7 linked regions of the Homo sapiens genome follow. The protein of the gene in region 1 purifies or fractionates together with the protein of each later gene. This does not show direct contact. Each region holds a gene or a part of one and is shown on either strand. Other genes may lie near its edges. The genes, in order: QRSL1, MTHFD1L, ACAD10, VWA8, IVD, PNPT1 and CLPX.

The links.
Region 2: the proteins of QRSL1 (region 1) and MTHFD1L purify together in Homo sapiens (affinity purification with mass spectrometry; one large-scale study listed by BioGRID and IntAct). This does not show direct contact.
Region 3: the proteins of QRSL1 (region 1) and ACAD10 purify together in Homo sapiens (affinity purification with mass spectrometry; one large-scale study listed by BioGRID and IntAct). This does not show direct contact.
Region 4: the proteins of QRSL1 (region 1) and VWA8 purify together in Homo sapiens (affinity purification with mass spectrometry; one large-scale study listed by BioGRID and IntAct). This does not show direct contact.
Region 5: the proteins of QRSL1 (region 1) and IVD purify together in Homo sapiens (affinity purification with mass spectrometry; one large-scale study listed by BioGRID and IntAct). This does not show direct contact.
Region 6: the proteins of QRSL1 (region 1) and PNPT1 purify together in Homo sapiens (affinity purification with mass spectrometry; one large-scale study listed by BioGRID and IntAct). This does not show direct contact.
Region 7: the proteins of QRSL1 (region 1) and CLPX purify together in Homo sapiens (affinity purification with mass spectrometry; one large-scale study listed by BioGRID and IntAct). This does not show direct contact.

Annotation. Positions count from the first base shown.
Region 1 is NC_000006.12:106,646,578-106,650,077, forward strand, and holds part of QRSL1 (glutamyl-tRNA(Gln) amidotransferase subunit A, mitochondrial), read left to right. Parts: intron 1-2,447; coding exon 2,448-2,624; intron 2,625-3,500. UniProt on the Homo sapiens protein: Allows the formation of correctly charged Gln-tRNA(Gln) through the transamidation of misacylated Glu-tRNA(Gln) in the mitochondria. The reaction takes place in the presence of glutamine and ATP through an activated gamma-phospho-Glu-tRNA(Gln).
Region 2 is NC_000006.12:150,872,202-150,875,701, forward strand, and holds part of MTHFD1L (monofunctional C1-tetrahydrofolate synthase, mitochondrial isoform 2 precursor), read left to right. Parts: intron 1-3,500. UniProt on the Homo sapiens protein: May provide the missing metabolic reaction required to link the mitochondria and the cytoplasm in the mammalian model of one-carbon folate metabolism complementing thus the enzymatic activities of MTHFD2.
Region 3 is NC_000012.12:111,692,553-111,696,052, reverse strand, and holds part of ACAD10 (acyl-CoA dehydrogenase family member 10), read right to left. Parts: intron 3,357-3,500; 5' UTR 3,344-3,356; coding exon 3,157-3,343; intron 1-3,156.
Region 4 is NC_000013.11:41,881,110-41,884,609, forward strand, and holds part of VWA8 (von Willebrand factor A domain-containing protein 8 isoform a precursor), read right to left. Parts: intron 2,383-3,500; coding exon 2,278-2,382; intron 1-2,277. UniProt on the Homo sapiens protein: Exhibits ATPase activity in vitro.
Region 5 is NC_000015.10:40,408,795-40,412,294, forward strand, and holds part of IVD (isovaleryl-CoA dehydrogenase, mitochondrial isoform 1 precursor), read left to right. Parts: intron 1-1,833; coding exon 1,834-2,003; intron 2,004-2,465; coding exon 2,466-2,559; intron 2,560-2,760; coding exon 2,761-2,897; intron 2,898-3,500.
Region 6 is NC_000002.12:55,683,845-55,687,344, forward strand, and holds part of PNPT1 (polyribonucleotide nucleotidyltransferase 1, mitochondrial precursor), read right to left. Parts: intron 2,601-3,500; coding exon 2,526-2,600; intron 1,205-2,525; coding exon 1,099-1,204; intron 1-1,098. UniProt on the Homo sapiens protein: RNA-binding protein implicated in numerous RNA metabolic processes. Catalyzes the phosphorolysis of single-stranded polyribonucleotides processively in the 3'-to-5' direction. Mitochondrial intermembrane factor with RNA-processing exoribonulease activity.
Region 7 is NC_000015.10:65,161,343-65,164,842, forward strand, and holds part of CLPX (ATP-dependent clpX-like chaperone, mitochondrial precursor), read right to left. Parts: intron 2,847-3,500; coding exon 2,687-2,846; intron 1,304-2,686; coding exon 1,262-1,303; intron 1-1,261. UniProt on the Homo sapiens protein: ATP-dependent chaperone that functions as an unfoldase.

The sequences.
Region 1 (3,500 bases):
GCTTGAGCCCAGGAGTCCTAGATCAGCCTGGGCAACATAGTGAGGCCCTGTCTCTACAGAAAAAAAAAATTAAAAAAAACAGGGAAAAGTATTAGTGACCTTGAATTAGTCAGAGTTCTTTTAGATAGGACACATGAAGCACAAATCCACTTAAAAAATTGATAGACTTGGCCGGGCACGGTGGCTCACACCTGTAATCCCAGCACTTTGGGAGGCCGAGGCAGGTGGATCACAAGGTCAGGAGATTGAGACCATCCTGGCTAACACAGTGAAACCCTGTCTCTACTAAAAATACAAAAAATTAGCCGGGCGTGGTGGCGAGCGCCTGTAGTCCCCGCTACTCAGGAGGCTGAGGCAGGAGAATGGCATGAACCCGGGAGGCAGAGGTTGCAGTGAGCCGAAATCACGCCACTGCACTCCAGCCTGGGTGACAGAGCAAGACTCCTTCTCAAAAAAAAAAAAAAAAAAAAAAAAAAAATTAATAGACTTCATTAAAATTAAGAACTTCTGTACTTTGAAATATGCTACTAAAAAAGTGAAAACGCAAGCCACAGACTGAGAGAAAAATATTTGCAAAACATGTATCTCAGAAAGAACCGATATCCAAAATACATAGAACATTTCACACCTCAATAAGAAAACAAGCAACCCTATTTTTAAAAAATGAACAAAAGATTTAAGAAGACGTTTCATCAGAGATTAAAACATAGTTGACAAACACATGAAACAATGCTTAATATCGTTGATCATTAGTGGAATTCAAAATTAAAATCACAGTGAGCTTGGGCACAGTGGCCCACACCTGTAATCTCAGCACTTTGGGAGGCCAAGGCATGGTAGTGGATGCCTGTAGTCCCAGCTACTCGAGAGGCATGAGAATCGCTTGAACCTGGATCACTTGAAACCGGGAGGCGGAGCTTGCAGTGAGCCAAGATCATGCCACTGCACTCCAGCCTGGGCAATAGAGCGAGACTGTCTCAAAAAAAAAAAAAAAAGAGAGAGACAATGATAATTAAATGGAAGACCTGACTCTAGATTTGATCCAGGAAGGAGATAAAATGCCATAAAGTACTTTTTTTTTTTTTTTTTTTGAGATGGAGTCTCGCTCTGTCACCCAGGCTAGAGTGCAGTGGCGCGATCTCGGCTCACTGCAAGCTCCGCCTCCCGGGTTCACACCATTCTTCTGCCTCAGCCTCCCGAGTAGCTGGGACTACAGGCGCCCGCCACCACGCCCGGCTAATTTTTTGTATTTTTAGTAGAGATGGGGTTTCACCGTGTTATCCAGGATGGTCTCGATCTCCTGACCTCGTGTTCCGCCCTCCTCGGCCTCCCAAAGTGCTGGGATTACAGGCGTGAGCCACTGCACCCAGCCAAAGTACATTATTGAATCAGTTGACAGAATTGAATTACATACAGTAGATTCGATAAAAGTATTGTAGGCCGGGCGTGGTGGCTCACCCCTGTAATCCCAGCACTTTGGGAGGCCAAGGCGGGTGGATTACGAGGTCAAGAGATTGAGACCATCCTGGCCAACGTGGTGAAACCCCGTCTCTACTGAAAATACAAAAATTAGCCCGGCGTGATGGCACGCACCTGTAGTCCCAGCTACTCGGGAGGCTGAGGCAGGAGAATTGCTTGAATCTGGGAGGCGGAGGTTGCAGTGAGCCGAGATCGCGCCACTGCACTCCAGACTGCCAGTAGAGCGAGACTCGTCTCAAAAAAGAAAAAAAAAATTATTGTATTGATATTAATGTTACTGAGATTGATAACTATACTGTGACTGTATAATGTGATATCCTTATTGTTAGGAAATACACACTAAAGTATTTAGGGATAAAGGGCTATGATATACATGTAAGTTACCCTTAAGATACCCTTAAGTTTCTATCATACTTTGTGTATATATGTACATATGTACAAACGTACACAGAGCACACAAGTAGTAAAGCAAAGGGATAAAATGTTGACCGTAGGTATGTCTGGGTAAAGGGTATAAAGTGCTTTATATGTTATTTTTATTTTTGCAATTTATCTGAGAATAAAATCATTTCAAAAATTTAAGTTATTAGCATTCCACTTGTAATGTTTTTCATAGAACTTCTGGTTCAGAAGTTCTTAACTGTTTGAATGTAACCCTTTTCAGCTGGAAGACCTTGATTCACAAGGGAAATCATCTTCAGTTGAATTGGATGATCAAAAGAGGCAAAATCTTTTCTTAGCAGATTAGCTTTGTCTATTTTCTACCACAAATGCTCTTCCTTCCCATCCTCCGCAACTGTCAATTAATGAAAGCTACATCTGAACAGGCTTCCCACCTTTTTCAATTCAAGCTACAGTGGGTTCTTAAATGCTCAATGAGTGTCAGAAGCAAATAATATACTCAGAAGATGAAATTTTCACATAAAATGAAAGTTTTACTAAGGTATCTTGCTTCACTTCGTCATCAGATCTGGGAGCACAGATGGTGTATTTGGACCAGTTAAAAACCCCTGGAGTTATTCAAAACAATATAGAGAAAAGAGGAAGCAGAATCCCCACAGCGAGAATGAAGATTCAGACTGGCTGATAACTGGAGGAAGCTCAGGTGGGAGTGCAGCTGCTGTATCGGCGTTCACATGCTACGCGTAAGATGCTTTTCTCTATCTGTATTTTAAAACCCACCCAAATACAAACAGTCATAAACTGTATCCAGCAATAGAGTAGTTCATATCCTGGTATTTTTCTTTCTAGTGAGCTATATGTGCTCAAAGGTATATCAAAATTATATCTTGAGTTGCACTCAACTGTACAGTACACTATGTATATTTAATACTTTTAACTTTAAAATAACAAATTTTTCTCCATAGTATCTGGTTCTCTTAAAATATGATTTTGTGGATCTTGCAGAATAAAGCATCGAACATAAATGAACTTCATTGCATTTCATTTTTAAATAATTTGAGTGTGTGCTCACTGATTATACAAATATTTAGGGACTAACATACAATGGCTTTAGTTGAGTGCTGCTGAACTAAACTGTTGGTAATGTTTATCCTTCAGCAAGATCAATCTTTTGAAAAAAAAGAAAAAATGCTAATATGTATTAATAAGATATTTTAAATAGTGTTTTCAGGAATCTGCAATTAAAAATGTACATCAGTAAGTAAAGTTTTTTCAAGCTTGTTAGGTGCTGATTCTGTTTATCTATCATACTTTGTATTTGGTAAGAATCCATTGATCATATTTTCAGTTCCATTTGTAAAGCATTTCTTAACTACCCAAAGAAAAGAAAGTAAATATGGCTGTTGCTGTGTTTATCAGTCTCAATTTAATCAAAATGAATGTGTTTCTTTAGTAATAGTTTTGTATTTTATCTCCCCTTAATTATCCATTAAAACTAAGTTCTTTCACACACATTGCAATCCATAAATCATTTATATTTTTTTAGAGCTATGGAGATGTGAGTTCTACAGATTTTTTTTCAGTTTTCCTAAAATCTTATTAACAAGTAAAACCATTTC
Region 2 (3,500 bases), about 44 Mb from region 1:
TGTATCCACGGGAGTAGCACTTTTAAATTTCTTCAATAGCTTTTCCTTTGCATTCACAGCTTGGCTAACTGTTTGGCTCAAGAGGCCTAGCTTTTGACCTATCTTGGCTTTCAATACACCCTCCTCACTAAGTTTAATTATTTCTCGGTTTTTATTTAAAGTGAGAGACCTGCAACTCTTCACTTGAACACTTAGAGGCCACTGTAGTTACTAATTGTCCTAATTTCAATATTGTTGTTTCTCAGGGAATAGGGAAGCCAGAGGAGAGGGAGAGAGAAGGGGGAACAGCCAGTCCAGTGAAGCAGTGAGAACACACACCATCATGAACCATCATGGCCACGGTTTGGCCAACACAATTACAACAGTAACATCAAAGATCGTCAATCACACATCACCAGAACAAACATACTAAAAATGAAAAAGTTTGAAATATTGTAAGAATTATCAAAATGTGACACAAATTGAGCAGATGCCATTGGAAAAATGACTCCCATAGACTTAAAACACAGGTTGCCACAAACTTTCAATTTGTAGAAAAACACAGTATCTGTAAATTGCAGTAAAGCAAAGCACAAAAAATGATGTATGCCTGTATTTTTTTTTCTATCCACATCCACCCCCCAACTTTTTTTTTTTTTTTGGTAGAGACCAGGTCTTGCTATCTTGCCCAGGCTGGCCTTGAACTCCTGAGCTCAAGTGATCCTCTCACCTCAGCCTCCCAAAGTGCTGGGATTACAGGCATGAGCCACTGCGCCCAGCCCCCATCCCCAACTATTTTAAAAGTCTAATTACTTTTTGACGATTGCCGACTTACCTATAGAAGTGTTCCTTTCAGCCCGGCGAGGTGGCTCACCCCTGTAATTCCAGCACTTTGGGAGGCCTAGGTGGGCGGATCACGAGGTCAAGAGATCGAGACCACCCTGGCCAACTTGGTGAAATCCTGTCTCTACTAAAAATACAAAAATTAGTGGGACGTGGTGGCATGCACCAGTAGTCCCAGCTACTCAGGAGACTGAGGCAGGAGAATCGCTTGAACCTGGGAGATGGAGGTTGCAGTGAGCCGAGATCGTGCCACTGCCCTCCAGCCTGGAAACAAAGTGAGACTCCGTCTCAAAAAAATAAAAAGAAGTGTTCCTTTCATCAACTATGAATGGATCAAGACTATGAATGTTTCTGAGAAAATTATTGCTGTTAGTAAGAATGTTTTTAGTGTTTAAGGGTAGCTTTGGGGCACAGAAAAAAACAAACGTACATTTATAAGAAAAAGGGGAAAGAGCCACTGTAGTATACCTGTTTTACAGATGAGGAATCTGAGACTCTTAGAGACTTGTCCACGCTAGTAAATGAAATGCCCAGTACCAATCCTGGGCCGTATTTCCACTTAGTGTCTCAGAATTACCTGGACTCTGTTAAAAATGCACATTTCTGGGCTCCACTGAGACACGTTGAATCAGACTTTCTAGGGCTGGAACTGTTATTTTTTTTGAGACAGAGTCTCGCTCTGTCACCCAGCTGGAGTGCAGTGGCATGATTTTGGCTCACTGCAGCCTCTGCCTCCTGGGTTCAAGTGATTCTCCTGCCTCAGCCTCCTGAGTAGCTCTGGGATTACAGGTGTGCACCACCATGCCTGGCTAATTTTTGTATTTTTACTAGAGATGGGGTTTCACCATGTTGGCCAGGATGGTCTCAAACTCCTGACCTCAAGTGATCCATTTCACCTTGGCCTCCCGAAGTACTGGGATTATAGGTGTGAGCCACTGCACCTGGCCTGGAACCTTTACTTTTACCAAACTCTCCAGTGATCCTTATACCATGAACCGCTTGGGTCCCACACTCCGGTGCTTTCCTGGACCCAGACAAAAATAAGAACCCAGCATAGCCAAATTAACAGTCACGACAGGCTGGAAAGAGTGCGGTATATGGGCCTCAGTCACCCATTATTGGATGGATGGATTTTAGTGCTTATTTATAAGGTGATTTGTAAACTTTCCCATATGGTCACATTTATTCAGCACAATAATACAATTAATTCCCTGGGAATGAAGTAGCTTTATCCCAAGTGTTTCCAAACAAAACTAACTGAAATGTTCCCAGGTTATAGACAGTTGCCTGCACCCAGTCCATCTGTTCCGGCCCAGCTGGCAGTAGAAAGACTGGTCCTGGTTGTGAATCTGAGCAGCTCTCTCCCCTAAAGCCCCGCCTGGGAACTGCAGTGCCTCTGGTTCCATTTGTCAGCTGTGTCTCTCTGAAAACTGGGGAAAGCTTCCCGATGCCTTTCTGCTCTTGGCAGTGTACCGTTGATGGCATTGGCTGGAACTTCTTCACCCCGCATTTTTGTTAGGTGCAGTGCAAGACCCTGTCGGAGACTGAAAACAAAATGTAAAGGTGGTCTTAGCACTGAAGCCTGGGGGCTCCTGTGGCTGCGCCTTTGGTCTATTGTGAGAGGGGGAAAAGCCAGCTCCCAGTGCTCATGTGCTGCTGAGAACATATCATAGGGTGGTGGCGAAGGTAGCCTCTGCAGTCACTCATCCCAGAAGGTTCCATAAAGAGCTGAGCTCCTAACACTTTTTTTTTTTTTTGAGACGGAGTCTTGCTGTGTTGCCCAGGCTGGAGTGCGGTGGCACAATCTCGGCTCACTGCAACCTCTGCCTCCCAGGTTCAAGAGATTCTCCCGAGTAGCTCAGATTATAGGCGCCTGCCACCACACCCAGCTAATTTTTGTATTTCTGGTAGAGACGGGGTTTCACCATATTGGCCACGGTGGTCTTGAACTCCTGACCTTGTGATCCACCCGCCTCAGCTTCCCAAAGTGCTGGGATTACAGGCGTGAGCCACCGCTCCTGGACTTTTTTTTTTTTTCTTTTTTTAAAAAGAAATTGAGTCTTGCTCTGCCACCCAGGCTGGAGTGCAGTGGTGCAGTCATAGCTTACTACAGCCTCAAACTCATGGGCTCAAGCGGTCCTCCAGCTTCAGCCTCCCAAGTATCTGGGACTACAGTCACGTGCCATCACGCCCAGCTAAATTGTTTATAGAGATGGGATCTCGTTATGTTACCCAGGCTGGTCTCAAACTCCTGGTCTCAAGCAGTCCTACCGCCTTGGCCTCTCAAAGTGCTGGGACTACAGGTGCATGCCACCATGCCAGGCCTTCTACCACTTTTACCTAGGCCTGCTCACCCCAGGCTGGCACCTCCCTCAGAGGTGGGAGGTGAAGGTGGCTGCTGCTGGGCATTTAGGAGGTACAGGTGCAGACTATGTTGTGGATTCTCAGAGGACTGAGAAGCTCTCTGTCTCTCTCTCTAGGAGGCTTTGATAGTGTTATCAAAGTGGGTCTCCAGTGTTTCTGGAACTTTCCTCCCCTTCCTTCCTTACCTAATTCCTTCTTTAAATTCCAGGACCTGGAATTTATCCTGTCTCGACACTTCTTGTCCAACAGTGAGCCCCCTGTCTTCACCCCCCTAATCCCCTGTCTTCACATCCCTCTTCCCACTTTATTTGCTT
Region 3 (3,500 bases), on another chromosome or scaffold:
TAATTCTAGTGTATATATATATATACTTTTTTTTTTTTTGAGACAGAGTCTTGCTCTGTCTCCCAAGCTGCAGCGCAATGGTATGATCTCAGCTCACTGCAACCTCTGTTTCCCGGGTTCAAGTGGTTCTCCCTGCTCAGCCTCCAGAGTAGCTGCAATTTCAGGTGCCCATCACCATGCCCCGCTTATTTTTGAATTTTTAGTAGAGATTGGATTTTGCCATGTTGGCCAGGCTGGTCTCAAACTCATGACCTCAAGTGATCCGCCCATCTCGTCCTCCCAAAGTGCTGAGATTAAAGGCATGAGCCACCGCACCTGGCCAATTCTAGTATATTCTTATCAAATGACCCTTGATATGGTTCATTTGAAATAAATAACATTAGAAGCTCCAGTCAAGCAAAAGACAAAGTAGAAGGCATCACTATTTTGTTCACATTTACCCATCAAACATTTCCTGAATGACTGAGCCAGCCTGCAGAGCTAACACTGCAACAGTGAAGTGAAGAAATCCCAGACCTGGGGTCCTGGAATCCAAGAGCCCCATAGAGGAGACATGAACATATCCCACTGCAAACAAAAATATCTCGGTGAAGGTGAAACTTAATGGGAATTGGCTATCCAGGAACATTCTGCCCAGGTTGCAAATGAGGTTGGAGAAGTCTTGACAGAAGAGGACTCTTGAAGTTAGTAACAACCATGAGATTTACTGAGTGTTCAAAAGATTCCAGTCATTGCTGAATAATATCCCCTTAAATTTGCCATTAAAAGCATCAGTAGGATTTGAACAGGCAGAGGAGGCAGGGAGGAAACACAGCTTGCAAAGGCACAAACATGCAAATGTGCCTGGCATGCCTGGGGAGCATCAGGTAGTCCATAGCAGGAAAGCTAAAACTGAGAGGAGCCCTGAATCCCAGGTGAAAGCTTCTAGACTTAATCTAGGGGACCACATGCAGGCATTCAAGATTTTCAAGCCAGGGATGAAAGGAACAAGATCTATGCTTTATTTTTATTTTATTTATTATTTTGTGACAGGGTCTCACTTTGTCACCCAGGCTGGAGTGCAGTGGTGCAATCTCAGCTCACTGCAGCCTCAATCGCCCAGGCTAAAGAGTTCCTCCCACCGCAGCCCCTCAAGTAGCTGGGACTACATCCATGCACCACCATGCCCAGGTACGCTTTTTGTATTTTTCGTAGAGACAAGGTTTCACCAGGTTGGCCAGGCTGGTCTTGAACTCCTGTGCTCAAGCGATCTGCCCACCTCGGCCTCCTAAATTGCTGAGATTACAGGTGTGAGCTGCTAAGCGCAGAAGCACGATCCATGTTTTAGAAAGGTTAATTCTGGAGCTGGGAGGAGATTTTGTAAAATCCAGAGAGCCAGAGGCAGAGGAAGTTAGGAGGCTGATGACATCATTTGGGTGAGAGAAGGCAAGGGTGGAGGCAGTGGCAATGGAGAGAAGTGAATTGGTTCTTAAGATATTCTAGAGAAAGTCAAGAAACTTTCTGTCCAGTGATCTTTATGTTCTTCCCTGCTGCCTTTTTTTTTAGAGACAGGTTCTCTAAAAAAGACTGTTGTGCCAGTCTGGGGTGCAGTGGTGCAATCCTAGCTCACCATAGGGTCTCACTGTGTTGCTCAGGTTTAGTCTTTATGTTCTTTGTAGAAGAACAGATTCAGCTATCTGCAGAGCAAGAATATTTGGGGGTGGTAAGGAGCAGGGGGAGTGGACAGTCTGGAACAGCCCCTGAGGTAAACATGACAGAGATACGAGTGAAGGAACAGAGAGATAAGAGTGAAGGAACAGAGAGGCTCAGGCGTAGCACCAATGGCCCAACTGAGGCTGGAGCTCAGAAACCAGCTTGTGCAGCCAGTTAGCACGGCTGAGTAATTTGGTCAGCAGTGCTGGAAAGCCTAGACACGCAGGCATAGAAAACCTGTGCCTGGGTTGATTTAGGATGGAGAACTGGCCAACCAGCCACCACAGAAGGTCAAAAGGAGAGGGATGGCTGCCTGGCCCTTTGTCCTTCCTGCTGGCTGGCATGAGAATATGATAGCAGGAGGCGACACAGCCAAGACAGACCACAATGTAAGAGTGGAAATGAAAAGTCACAGCAGAGCAACATGCTATAAAGAGTCGGAGTCCCTGATACCACAGAGTCGCATCACACAGTGCCCCAGACCACATACCTGGGCTTTTATGTGCAAGAGAAAGAAACTTCTAGCTTGTTTCAGTCACTGTTTTGTTAGGTTTTCTACTGCTTGAAGCCAAAACGACTTTAACTAATAAAAACTGAACTGAGTAGAAAAGAAGTAAAACCAGGAAGGGGCTGGTAAAGAGAAGACCAGAGACCAGAGGGCTGACCCTTACCCTGTCAGTCCAGAAGCAGGTTTAGAGGGAGTGGGGTAGAAGGGAGGAAGGCTGTAATCAAAAGGGGAATTTCAGCATTCTAGATTTCAGAAGTAGAACAGTTCCCAAGAAGAAGTGGTTAAATTCTTTGGGATTTTTGGTTGTTTGTTTTTGAGTAAGGGTCTTGCTCTGTTACCCAGGCTGGAGTGCAGTGGCATGATCACGGCTGACTACAGCCTCAACCACCTGGATTCATGTGATCCTCCGACCTCAGCCTCCTGAGTAGCTAGAACTACAGGTGCCTGTCATCATGCCCAGATAATTTTTAAATTTCTGCAGATACGGGGTCTCACTATGTTGCTCAGGCTGGTCTTGAACTCCTGGGCTCAAACGACCCTCTCACCTCGGCCTCCAAAAGTGCTGGGATTACAGGCTTCAGCCACTGTGCCCTGCCTTGGTGGTTAAATTCTAATCACAGCATTCATGGCAGCTCATCATTGATTGAGAATTTAGGATGCACTGAGCAATCACTGTGCTAAGCAAGTGCTTCCCACGGATAACTCTCCGCCAAATCCCAAGGAGGAAGGCACTACCATTAGCTCATTTAATGATGAGGAAAGTAAGATTTGGAGAAGCTGAATCATGCGCCCAAGACACTCAGCCCCCTAGTGGTGCTTGGAATTCGACTCGAGAGCCAGAGCATGGCCTGCTGGGACACACTGCTGCCCAAGTGTTCCCCTCTGCCTTCCCGATCACCCTCCATTCTCCCACCACCACTCTAGTCCCACAAAGTGAAACAGAATCAATAGCTCACCTGCAGCGACTCTCCCTGGAGAAGGAATGAGAACTCCGCCCATGTCGAAAATCACCGCTCTGTAGGTGCTGCCTCCAAGGTGTGTCCATCGGTGGGACCCCTGGTGCCTGCGCTGGGTGTGTTTCAGGAAGGCTGTTCTCCACACCCACTGGAGACGGGGGGACTGGAAACAGCTCCTGACACACATGGTGAGGCTGAGGCTGTGTGGGAAGAAGGCACAGGGCGTTACTTGCCTGCACTGCCTCCCAACCAGGCCTCCATCCTGGAGCTCAGAGGGGCCAGCCAGACATCTCTAACCCATCTCCAACAGGCACTTCGAATCACACCCACAACTGACCTCAGTG
Region 4 (3,500 bases), on another chromosome or scaffold:
CAGGTTAAAACCAATTACCATCATCATTTATTTTTATGCTCAAATTGTCCCAGATTTCAGCCACTTCAACCTGGGAACTCCATCATTTTGACATATCGACATCATTTGTTGAATATTTCCTTACTCTCTGGCACAAAAAGATGGTCCAGGCTCATCTTCTGCATTCCCTGACCTAATCCTTTTAGAGAGCATGGTATTTAGAAACCAATGTCCAGGTACTTGGTATGATCACTGCTACTAGAACATCATAGTTTTTTTTTGCCGGGGGGGGGGGGGGGGGGGTAAGGTCACAGATCAACAGGATAAGAATTTTTCTTAGTACAGAACAAAATGAAAAGTCTCCCATGTCTACCTCTTTCTACACAGACACGGCAACCATCCGATTTCTCAATCTTTTCCCCACCTTTCCCCCCTTCTGTTCCACAAAACCGCCATTGTCATCATGGCCCGTTCTCAATGAGCTGTTGGGTACACCTCCCAGACGGGGTGGTGGCCAGGCAGAGGGGCTCCTCACTTCCCAGTAGGGGCGGCTGGGCAGAGGGCTCCTCACTTCCCAGTAGGGGCGGCCGGGCAGAGGCGCCCCTCACCTCCCGGACGGGGCGGCTGGCCGGGCTGGGGGCTGACCCCCCCACCTCCCTCCTGGACGGGGCGACTGGCTGGGCAGAGGAGCTCCTCACTTCCCAGTAGGGGCGGCCGGGCAGAGGTGCCCCTCACCTCCCGGACGGGGCGGCTGGCCGGGCGGGGGGCTGACCCCCCCACCTCCCTCCCGGACGGGGCGGCTGGCCTGGCGGGGGCTGACCCCCACCTCCCTCCCGGACGGGGTGGCTGCTGGGCGGAGACGCTCCTCACTTCCCAGACAGGGTGACTGCCGGGACGGAGGGGCTCCTCACTTCTCAGATGGGGCGGCTTCCGGGCGGAGGGGCTCCTCACTTCTCAGACGGGCGGTTGCCAGGCGGAGGGTCTCCTCACTTCTCAGACGGGGCGGCCGGGCAGAGACGCTCCTCACCTCCCAGACGGGGTCGCGGCCGGGTGGAGGTGCTCCTCACATCCCAGACGGGGCGGCAGGGCAGAGGCTCTCCCCACATCTCAGACGATGGGCGGCCGGGCAGAGACGCTCCTCACTTCCTAGATGGGATGGCGACCGGGAAGAGGCGCTCGTCACTTCCTAGATGGGATGGCGGCCGGGCAGAGACGCTCCTCACTTTCCAGACTGGGCAGCCAGGCAGAGGGGCTCCTCACGTCCCAGACGACGGGCGGCCAGGCAGAGACGCTCCTCACTTCCCAGACGGGGTGGCGGCCAGGCAGAGGCTGCAATCTCGGCACTTTGGGAGGCCAAGGCAGGCAGCTGGGAGGTGGAGGTTGTAGCGAGCCGAGATCACACCACTGCACTCCAGCCTGGGCACCATTGAGCACTGAGTGAACCAGACTCCGTCTGCAATCCCAGCACCCCGGGAGGCCAAGGCTGGCGGATCACTCGCGGTTAGGAGCTGGAGACCAGCCCGGCCAACACAGCGAAACCCCGTCTCCACCAAAAAAATACGAAAACCAGTCAGGCGTGGCGTCGCGCGCCTGCAATCGCAGGCACTCGGCAGGCTGAGGCAGGAGAATCAGGCAGGGAGGTTGCAGTGAGCCGAGATGGCAGCAGTACAGTCCAGCTTCGGCTGGGCATCAGAGGGAGACCGTGGAAAGAGAGGGAGAGGGAGACCGTGGGGAGAGGGAGAGGGAGAGGGAGAGCAATCCTATTTTTTTAACTAAATATGAGAACATCATAGTTTTTAGGCTGCCTTAGGAGACAGCTAGAAAATATGTGTATGTATACATATACACATACTATCTCTATCTATTTGTTCATATATATTGTTTAAAAAAAGTCATGATTCATAATAACACCAATTCCAATCCAATACCTTAGAGTTTTTTCTTGCCTTCCCCCTTTCCATGGTTATAAATCCCTCATCCAACAGTGAGAAGCATAACTCTTATTATCCTTAATATATTCATTCATTTGCTCAATCTATTTACTTATTTGCTCAACATAACCAATCTCCCAATCACACCAGCCCCTGTGTGTTTGCTGCCCTATTTATCACAGCTGTCTTCTTGTTGGAATGCTGATACCTCCATGCCTGGTAAAGAATGGAGGGGAAGGGAAAGGAAAGAAATAAGGATGGGGAGAGAAAAATAGGAAAGGTGGGGAAAGGAGTGAGGGGAAGATGGGAAAAGGCAAGGGAAGGGAAAATGGGAAAAGAAAGGAAAGAAAGGGAAGCAGACACTCACCTTTAAAACACCTTCCACAGCCATCTTCCCTTCATGACCTAGTAAAATACTATATGGATAAAGCCACTGGATTGCATGTTTGATTGGCATCATAGGAAAGGAATCCTATGTAGGAGCAAAAATACATAGGAATGAGCAAAATTCAAAATAATCACAGAAAACATCTGAAATGTACATATGACATTAAAATTGACTTATAAAAGTAACCAATAGGTGTCTGGTATTTTCTGTAAGTCTACAAAAGCAAATATTCATTATTTTCTCTTCTCATTCCTTGCCCTTTCTCTGGGTAAGCTTACCCATTCCCATCTTTCATTTATCTTCTATGTATTGATGGCTCCCACACTTCTATGTCTGGTCTTGACTTCTTTCTTGAGCTCTAAACCTGAACCCTCAATTGTTCATTACATGTGACTATATGAATATCCCATAGACCCCCATTTGAAACAGAATACATGTCTCTACCTTATTCATCCCAAAGTACCTGATCCCTTTTTATTCCTAAGTTAATCTCATCCACATTCACTTAGCTTCACAGTTATAACTACAAAATTAGAAAGTATTCATTATCCTCAAATCCTTCCTCACATTATCTGCACTGTCAATTCTGTTCACCCCACTTTAAAAGTCTGTTGACAAGAAAGATTAGTGAAATTTCAATATGAACTATCTATTAGATGATACTATGGATTACTGTTAACATGATATGAAGTGTGATAATGTTGTTCTGGTTATGTAGAAGAATGTCCTAATTCTTAGAAGTTGCATACTGATATGGTTTGGCTGTGTCCCCACCCAAATCTCATCTTGAATTGTAGCTCCCACAATCCCCACGTGTCATGGGAGGGACCCAGTGGGAGACAACTGAATCATGGAGGCAGTTAACCTCCATGCTGTTCTCATGATAGTGAGTTCTCATGAGATCTGATGGCTTTATAAAGGGCTTTTCCCCTCCTTCACTCTGCACTTTTCTCTCCTGCCACCATGTGAAGGACGTGTTTGCTTCCTCTTCCACCACGATTGTAAGTTTCCTGAGGCCTCCATAGCCTTGCAGAACTGTGAGTCAATTAAACCTCTTTTCTTTATAAATTACCCAGTCTCAGGTATTTCTTCATAGCAGCGGGAGAACGAACTGATACACACACTGAAGTATTTAAGAGTACTGACTGCAATTTACTTCCAAATGGTTCAGGAAAAAAAAAAAGAAAAAAGCACATGCAAAC
Region 5 (3,500 bases), on another chromosome or scaffold:
ACAAAATTAGCTGGTCATGGTGGTACATCCCTGTAATCCCAGCTACTCGGGAGGCTGAGGCAGGAGAATTGCTTGAACCTGGGAGGCGGAGGTTGCAGTGAGCTGAGATTGTGCCACTGCACTCCAGCCTGGGCAACGGAGCGAAACTCCGTTTCAAAAAAAAAAGCCCAGCCTGCTTGGGCCTGTATTCACTCTGGGCATGAGAGTATGAGTGGAACCCAATATACTTCTCCTTACATCCTAGAAAGTTATATCACCTTTCATAAAATGAAACCACTTGAAGATTAATTGAAACCATCTTAATGTAAAAGCATTAGGGGAAAGGCTGCTGGGTACTCCTAAGCAAGACTCTCCTACTGTGTTTTGGGGGTTTATGTACCCCACTCCCTGCAGACAATATGCTTCTGAATCAGATTGTATTTTACGGAAGAAAGAGGCAGTTAGAAATCAGATGAAAATGGCCAGGTGTGGTAGTGGGCTCCTATAATCCGAGTGACTCGGGAGGCCAAGGCAGGAGGATCGCTTGAGCCCAGGAGTTCAAGGCTGCAATGAGCCATGGTTACACCATTGCACCCCAGCCTGGATAAGAGAGTGAGAGCCCGCCTCTTGAAAAAAAAAAAGAAAAGAAATCAGATGAAAACTCTTTCAAGGGAACCTGAAAAAGAAAGCTGGTTACAAGTTCTGGTTTCTGCATGATGTCATGGTGGCTGTTTCTAATGTCACCTGCCTTCAGGCTTTCCTTCCTGCAGTTGTAGGGGCAGGTCAAGGTTTCCTTAGAGCCTAGAACGAGCCTGACTTATTGGTCAGAGTGAACATGTGTATAGGACCTTGCTAGGCTTGACCCAATCAGCAGGGCTGGGGGTGGTATCAGGTGTCTCAGCCACTTGGAGTTTGGATCTGCTGCCAAGGAAAAACCGTATATTTTATGAGGAGTTCTGAAATTCTCTGCCAGCATCTCATCTGCCCTCTGCTGTACAGCTCACCTCAAGATTTTCCCTGAGGCTGTGGCTCTCCTGTCCTGTCACCAGTCCTGCTTCTTTCTTTTTTTTTTTTTTTTTTTGAGACAGAATCTCACTCTGTCGCCCAGGCTGGAGTGCAGTGGCGCGATCTCGGCTCTCTGCAAGCTCCACCTGCCAGGTTCACACCATTCTCCTGCTTCAGCCTCCCGAGTAGCTGGGACTACAGGCGCCCGCCACCATGCCCGGCTAATTTTTTGTATTTTTAGTAGAGACGGGGTTTCACCGTGTTAGCCAGGATGGTCTTGATCTCCTGACCTCGTGATCTGCCCACCTCAGCCTCCCAAAGTGCTGGGATTACAGGCGTGAGCCCCATGCCTGGCCTCCAGTCCTGCTTCTTTGGGTTCAGCCCTATGCTATAAAATCTCACCTTCCTCAGGCCTTTTGCAGACACATCAGATCCTCTGGCTTTGTATCTGTTCTTGGTGCTTTGGACACCACCTCCACCCCAATGCCTTTGTTTTTCTCCAGGCCCTCTTTCTTCATTTATTCATCTGCCTCTGCATTTCTGTAACTTTCTGAGTAGTGGGTGCTCAGGTTGTTCACGTATCTTCATCAAGAAGTCTGTCTGGGATAAAGCAGAAGTTGCAATGATTGCCTTCTGAATCACCCCTCAGCTGAGGAGCACCAGCAGGCAAAACCAGTCCACTGAGCTTGTAAGCAGGTCTGTGGCATCAGCTTATTCTTGTTGCTAGAGAGAATTTGGAGTAGGTGCTACAAGGTGCTTCCCTTCTGCCGTCAAATGTAAGATTCTTAATGAATGTCCCGATTTAATCTGGGCTGCGTTTTCCACTCCCTTGTACCACACCACTCACAGTTCAGTATGGCGGCTCCGGCCTGGGCTACCTGGAGCATGTGCTGGTGATGGAGGAGATATCCCGAGCTTCCGGAGCAGTGGGGCTCAGTTACGGTGCCCACTCCAACCTCTGCATCAACCAGCTTGTACGCAATGGGAATGAGGCCCAGAAAGAGAAGTATCTCCCGAAGGTGAGGAAATGGAAATGTAATACACGCTAATCTCACAGTGCAACCACCAACTAAAAGATACCCTCTCCCCTTGGGGGCCAGTCAGACCTGCTTTCTGTAGCATGCTGCCATGAACCAAATGTGGTTAGGAAGGGGCCATGGATTGCTTTAAAATACTTGAGCCAAAAATAATAAAAATAGGACCAGAACTCTTGCATTGAACAACAGACAGACAACATTTGAAGAGAACTCTAAGAAATGGAAGAGTAGGACTAGCTTCCTTTGCAAAGGGAATGGAAAAAGGAGAGGCATTTTCAGCCTTGTAGCCATTGGGCTTAGAAGAGACTTCTAGGACTTTACCGACACCCTGGTCTGAGAGCGAAGTTTGAAGGGGTTTAATGTGGACAGGAAGAGGCAGTACCAGTGAGCTGCTCTAGGGTACTCTGAGGTTGTAACAAGGCCTGTTGGGGGTTTTCCTTGCAGCTGATCAGTGGTGAGTACATCGGAGCCCTGGCCATGAGTGAGCCCAATGCAGGCTCTGATGTTGTCTCTATGAAGCTCAAAGCGGAAAAGAAAGGTGAGGCCACTCTCAACTTGGGAGCCAAAATGGGCAGAGGTACAGACATTATCAGGATAATGGAGCAACAATTGTGGGTGGCCCCTGCTGGGTTTCCAGAACTTTCTCAAAGGTGGACAGCTTCTTGCTCAGCAGAAGGTCTATGGCCTGGCTGAGACAGGCCAAGATGGCTTGAGCAAATAGCCAACATCCTGCCCTTAGGAAATCACTACATCCTGAATGGCAACAAGTTCTGGATCACTAATGGCCCTGATGCTGACGTCCTGATTGTCTATGCCAAGACAGATCTGGCTGCTGTGCCAGCTTCTCGGGGCATCACAGCCTTCATTGTGGAGAAGGTGAGTATAGGTGGGTGCAGGGCCAGGAGGCTTCTGCCTCCTGACAGTGGTACCAGAGATAGCCCGTTCACTGATCTCAAATGGAATCAGTGTTGTGTGCTCTGCAAGGCCCCCAGAGGTGGGGGTGAGGCAGAGAGCAGACTGCAAGGAGGGTGACCAAAAGTCCAGGAAGTCCAGGGCAGATGGGTCACTTCTGAAGACGGTGGAGCCGTCCTCAGCGCCAGGCCACACAAAGAGGTCTAGAAAGGGGAGGACTAAAAGGAGGTCAGGACATGACGGTCAGGGTACCATTGGTGGATCTGATGAATGTGGCCATGGGAGACTGAGGTGTGGGTGGGATGCAAGTGGAGACTGCCCCTGCAACAGCCTTGACAACAGAAGCAAGAAGGAAGCAGAGCAGGAGTTCCAATGAAAAGTTAGGAGTTTGGGTTTGTTTTTAGAAATGAGAGAACTGAGCAGATTTTTTGGTCAGAAGGAAAAAAAAGGGAAGAAAAAAGAAAATAGAGGGAGAAATTGAAAAGTGTGGGAATGAGTGGGCAGAACACAATGGTGAGCTGGGGCAGAAGAGAGAAGGATGGGTTACAGGTGATGGTGCAGGAACCA
Region 6 (3,500 bases), on another chromosome or scaffold:
AAAAAAAAACACATTAAACCGTACTGACAGAGTTGCTTTACAGTTCAAAACGTTTGAACTAATATAGATAGCCATTCAATATGTTTTCAAGAAAAATCCCCTTGGACTGATTTACTAAGAGGGACACAGATAAATGTCAGTGCTTCCATTATTACATACCATGCCCTAACAACAAAAAACAAACACAGAAGAAGCACATTAACAATAAAGATTGGGGAGCAATTTTTCATTCTGGTTCCACAGGCAACAGTTACATATATAAGCAGAGCAAAGAGACTTAAGACCAATAGCAGACCAAAAGAAAATGCTTCCTTGCTACTTTGTGTCTGAAGACTGTATATAAATATACATAAAATAGCAATTTCTGGCCGAGCACAGTGGTTCACGCCTGCAATCCCAGCACTTGGGAGGCTGAGGCGGGTGGATCACGAGGTCAGGAGTTCAAGACCAGCCTGACCAAAATGGAGAAACCCCATCTTGACTAAAAATACAAAAATCAGCCAGGCATGGTGGTGGGCACCTGTAATCCCAATCACTTGAACCCGGGAGGTAGAGGTTGCAGTGAGCCGAGATCGTGCCACTGCACTCCAGCCTGGGTGACAGAGCAAGACTCTGTCTCAAAAAAAAGCAATTTCTGGGTAGAAGAGCTATAAATTACATATGATCCCACAATATGTAGGGATGTTAAAGATTTGAAAGATTATGGACATATTTCAGTAGCTGATGAACATAATGTTTAGGAATTACTATTCTGAACATGAAAAAATGTACTAGGAATAGATTCAACAAAGTAGAGGCATGGGCCAAAAAATTCATATGCTCAATAGAGATTTACTCATTTAGTCAACAAATATTTATTGAATGCCTATTCTGTGCTAAGCAGTATAACAGGTACTAGGGATTCAACCCTGAAGAAATAAAAGTTTTTTCTTTCACAGTGCCCACATTTGAGTGAGGGAAGAGAAGGAGTGAATAATCTTAGGTGGTGTTAATGCTATGAAGGAAAACTTAAGACTTATTGTAGAACACAGATGCAAGAGAAGAGATGCTAACATAGGCATACCAGAGAAGATGAACGCCTCTATGTTAATATCTTACCTATTATTCGACTTGTTAGAATTTCTTTATCAGAAGTACCAATCTCTCTTCTCAGATAGTTTGTGGGAATTCTACCTGCTGCAGCAGCTTTTTGTCTGTAGTCAACCTGAAGCAGCAATAAAAAAAAGTTCATATAATTCTTTTTGCAGAAACAAACTATACTGTATGAATGCTAATTCTCCTGAGGTTGCTAACAACACAGTCTAGACTCAGAGTAGAAAATGTTATTTACTTAGCATTTTGTATCTTTTGGGGAGAGGAAAGTTGATAGAAATGTTTCTGCAAAGTGATTTTAAAAAACGTTCAGGTGCAGTGGCTCACGCCTGTAATCCCAGCACTTTGGGAGGCCAAAGCAGGAGGACCACTTGAGGCCAGGGTTTTAGAACTGCCTGGGTAACACAGAAAGACCTTGTCTCTACCCCCAACAAAAAAAAAATTAGTTGGGCACAATGGCCTGTGCCCATAGTCCTAGCTACTCAGAAGGCTGAGGTGGGAGGATTGCTTAAGCCCAGGAGTTTGAGGCTGCAGTGAACTATGATCACACCACTGAACAACTCTAGCCTGGGTGACAGAGCAAGACCCTGTCTCTTAAAAAAAAAAAAGTCTTCTACTCAACAGTAAAAGTGGAAGAAGACTCACTATTTGCCACAGATGCTCATTCTGATCAAGTCAAACATTGCTTTTTTTTGGTATCAACTCTGTTAAATATAATTGTACACCCCTTTTCATAATAGAAGGGAGCTATAAAATTCTCATGAGCTCATTACTAAATATACACAGTTGTCTCTTGGTATCCCTGGGGGATTGGTTCTAGGACCTCTTGCAGATATCAAAATCCATGGATGCTCAAATCCTTGATGTAAAACACCATAGTATTTGTTTATAACTTACGTATATCCTCTCATATACTTTAAATCATCTCTAGATTACATATAATCCTTAATACAATGTAAATTCTACATAAATAGTTTTTATACCGTATTGCGTAGGGAATGACAAGAAAAAAAGTCTGTACATATTCAGTACAGATGCAATTTTTCCCCCAATATTTTCGATCCATGGTTGGTTGAATCCATGGATGCAAAACCCAAGGACATGGAGGGCTGACTGTACTTGCAGAGTCATACTGAAGGGAAACTATGAGGGCAATGAATTCATTGCTTATTCAATGTCAAAGTACTCATGCACTTCCAATCTTCTTGTCAACTTACGCACCTGGACGTTCCAAATTCTAAAGTATGCTTAATCCTAGTATTTGTTTATGAAGCAGTTTATACTCTTTTAATGAATCAGTATCAAAAAACTAGGAAAAATTCTTTGTTGTGCAAGTTTGTATTTTCCACTCACTAGACACTGGACAAAAATATTATACATTCTACACTTTACTCAGACCATATTACAGTTCAGATAAATCAGCAAATACTTACCACCAAAGGCATAAACTGGGAAGGGGAAGGTTTTGTTTTACTGACCGCTGTGACCATTACTGCAGTGTCACCTGACTTAAACATAAAGAACAACGCTGGTAAGTTCCTTTGAAATCAGATATTAGCATCTAAGTAGCAACTGAATAAATCCTTACTCCAATTAAACTCAAGAAAAGATATCTAATTCTACGACACGATTATGAAATAAAAAATATTCACAAGTAGTCCAATCTTGATCTCTGAGCTTTTCAAAAGCTATGGAATCAAAATAAGGAAAGATTAACAGGTAATTTAGTCATATTCAATGAATTGAATAGTATTCTCTACTTCTTATGTGGCTATACATAAGGAAAAATTCCCCAATTATTACTATAGAAGAAAATACCAAAATCACTTTCTCTAGAAAAGCACAACAGAATTTATTAACGCATAAAACAGAAGCCCAAGTTTGGAAAGGATGTTAAACGTCACTTAATACGGCTGGGCACGGTCGCTCACACTTGTAATTGCAGCACTTTGCGGGGGCAAGGCAGGTGGATCACGAGGTCAAGAGATTGAGACCAGGCCAGGCGCGGTGGCTCACGTCTGTAATCCCAGCACTTTGGGAGGCTGAGGCAGGCGGATCACGAGGTCAGGAGATCAACACCATCCTGGCTAACACGGTGAAACCTCGACTCTACTAAAAATACAAAAAATTAGCTGGGCGTGGTGGCAGGTGCCTGTGGTCCCAGCTACTAAGGAGGCTGAGGCAGGAGAATGGCGTGAACCTGGGAGGCGGAGGTTGCAGTGAACCGAGATCGCGCCGCTGCACTCCAGCCTGGGCAACAGAGTGAGACTCCATCTCAAAAAAAAAAAAAAAAAAGAGATCGAGACCATCCTGGCCAACATGGTGAAACCCCGTCTCTACTAAAAATACAAAAATTAGCTGGGTGTGGTGGTGCACGCCTGTAGTCCCAGCTACTCGGGAGGCTGAGG
Region 7 (3,500 bases), on another chromosome or scaffold:
TGTACATGATTTTGGTCTAAAACCCTAGACCAGTGTTAGGGTCTAACACCCCCAGCCAGTGTTAGTTAACAACCTAACTTTAGAACTTAAAATCCCATGTAAAACACAACAAAACTGCACATGACAATAAATTTAAGCTTTTGAAATATTTGTTTCTAAGTCAATCTTTTACATAAGTTCTTAAATACTGTTACTTGTTAACATTTAAATAACATTAAATCACTACATATATTACATGACATGTCTTTCAAAATATGCACTACAGACTTTCTTTACTAATTTAGTATAGGTTAACTAGCTGTCAACACAATTTATGAGTATGGTATTGACTGCATATCTGAATATATTTTTTTATTATGAAATAAATTACATATATACCTAAAGGTTATTATTTAGATTTTACATTCTTATATACAATCTAATTCTATTGCACTTACTGTATTTCTTAATTTTACCACGCATGGTATAATCAGTATTTCTATAAATTTAAAAATAACTGGGGATAATGTAATTTTATTACATGTGATAAATGTCATGCCCAAGTTGGTACACAAGTTATATTCTCATGGCTCATCCTATATATAGTACACTTCAAATAGTGGATATATAATACTACTTGGTTCAAAGGCAAATGTAAAAACATCAAACTTAGCTAATTTTCTTTATTTCAATTACTAAAACAAAAGGCCATGTGAATCTTTCTATGACACCCCTGGAACCTCCACCCTCAATGCAGCAACTAACTATATCCACCTCCAAAGGAATAGGTGGAACACAACAGAAAGGCCACTCTCCTTGGTCTATCAAGTCCTTCCACACCCTCCATCGGACCATCTGATGCTTGTAGGGGCAATCTGGGGCTGGAAACAGTGAATTAAGACTTACTCATAATTTGTAAGACTGTAAGTTTCATAAATACAAAAAAAACCAAAAAACAGTGTGCTTTCTGGCAAAGAGTAGCTAGAAAATAATCTGCCTCCCCCAAATTCCTGTGACCCACAAGAAGCAGGCCAACTCTAATTGTAGTTTGATAGAAAAAATAAAAAATAACCCAACATATGGAAACGACACAAATTAGCTATGAAAAACTATTCCAAAGTTATATATACCATGTAGGATAAACACATTTAGATAATACGTATCTTTCTTGGTAATACACAAGCAAATACATACATGTCTATCACTGTTACTGCTGAAACACTTCACTGAAATAAATGTCAAAAGGAAGAATGATTACAGAGGAGGACCTGAAGTCACTTACTTGTAAATCTGTACTCATCCTCCCGTCTTCTTATTTCTAACTCTAAGAAAGAGGATGAAAATATTACATATTTGTTTACCTTGGGGGAACAAACAATGAGTATCCCACCTCCTGTCCTCTTTCAAATATATTTAAAGGATTTGTTCATTAACATTTTTCAGCTTTTCATATATGCTATATCTTTTCTATATTAAAACAAAACCATGCATAAAGACCGCTGTCCAGTTGCTAATATTCACATTTGTCAAATATATAATTGATATCTATTGTAAGGGTATAATAACATAAGTCTTTAATAAGAGTTTAAGCCCCTCATGCTATAAATATTATAACCATTTGCTCCTCCAGCACTTAGAATAGCTTAAATATCTATTTATTACCGAGGAAAACAAAAAAGTTTTGCTCCATAACTATCAGTGCTATTTGGACCTTATAAAAATGAAGATTTCAGGCCAGGCGCAAGAGTTCACGCCTATTAATCCCAGCACTTTGGGAGGCTGAGGCAGATGGATTGCTTGGGAGACTGAGGTGGGAGGATCACTGGAGCCTGGGAAGTTGAGGCTGCAGTGAGTCGCAATCCAGCCTGGGTGACAGAGAGAGACCTTGTCTTGAAAAAAAGAAAAAGGTTCCAAGTCATCCGTTAGTTATGACTTATACTTTCTAAAAATAACTGATACCATCACATACCTATTTTGCAGTTATGTGATGTAAGTTCAGCAAGTGAACAAGTGTCTTCATTGAAATAAATTATACATTTAGTTGCTACTAAAGGCAATCAAAGATAATGTAGACTTATAAATTTAAGTACTTAGCAGAACTCCTTCACACTGTACAGTGATAACTAAAAGAATCTAAAATGATGGAATATAGGCCTAAATCAGAAATTGGGGCTGTCTGGCCAACAAAACAAAAAATTAAATATTCATATTTACTCTATGCATAATTGTTTTTAATAAATCATTCTATTAATATACATTATTGTCCATAGTAAATTGAGATTATACAGTATACTGTATAATGACTACAGCCATGTGCCACCCCACCTGGCTAATTTTTGTATTTTTAGTAGAGACGGAGTTTCCCATGCTGGCCAGGCAGGTCTCGAACTCCTGACCTCAAGTGATCCCCCCGCCTCGGCCTCCAAACGTGCTGGGATTACCGGCATAAGCCACCATGCCAGGCCTAAGAAATAATATTTACCTTAACTGTAAGTTAATGTATTCTGTTATTTTCTATTCATATCTATCAAATTTTTAAAAAATGCTGTTGGCAAATGATTTCATAACACACTAATGGGGAATAACCTGCACTTTGAAAAATGCCACACTATATAAAAAACATTTTAAGAAGAAAGTGAGGAGTTACAAATAAAGATTACTTTTAAGCATAGCAATCTCTATTTAGGTCAATTATCAAAAACGCTACCTCTTGGTGTTAATGATGTCTGCTTCTCAACCTCTGCTTGCTGTCTCAGATTAGCTGGGATATTATTATATATTCTCTTATAATGATTGTACACAGCAACTGAAAGCACCTTCTTAGCAAATGACTGGCCAACAACATACTTGTCGAGGTAGTTATAAATCTGAAAAATGATTAGGTATGAATAATTTAATATGAGCTATTATAAGAGCACACACATTAAAAAGTTATTTACTAAGCATATTTGCTTACAGTTTTAAATCTGAACAAAGACTCTCATTAAAAACAAAATGACAATACATTATATAGCAATGATTCAGAGGCCCTGAACACTAAATGAACAAAAACACAATTCATTTGTTCTCTAGCTTAACAAAGTATCACTGTACTCTACTAGTGTTGTGCTAATTTCTATTCTATAAACAATGCTATCAATCTTTATTTTTTGATAACAAATTAAATTTAAAGTAACTTAGAATACATACACATGCCACCATGGTCTAAAAGTATCAACATTAATGTAAATCATTAAAATAAATCCATACCTGTCAATCAAATGAATAACATTCTTCACAAAGATAACATTATAAAACTACTCTTTTCAGAAACAGGCATTACATAATCAAAAGCCATTATACTATCAGTATCTATGTGTTTTAGTAAATTTAATTTTTTCTCAGACATTAACTTTAAAGCTACTCATTTATCTGAGACTCTAAAAACTGTATTCTTATTTTTTTTTATTTTCTAAAAATATATTTTTTTCTTTTTTTGATACAGGGTCTCACTGTGTCGCCAAGGCTGGTCTTGAACTCCT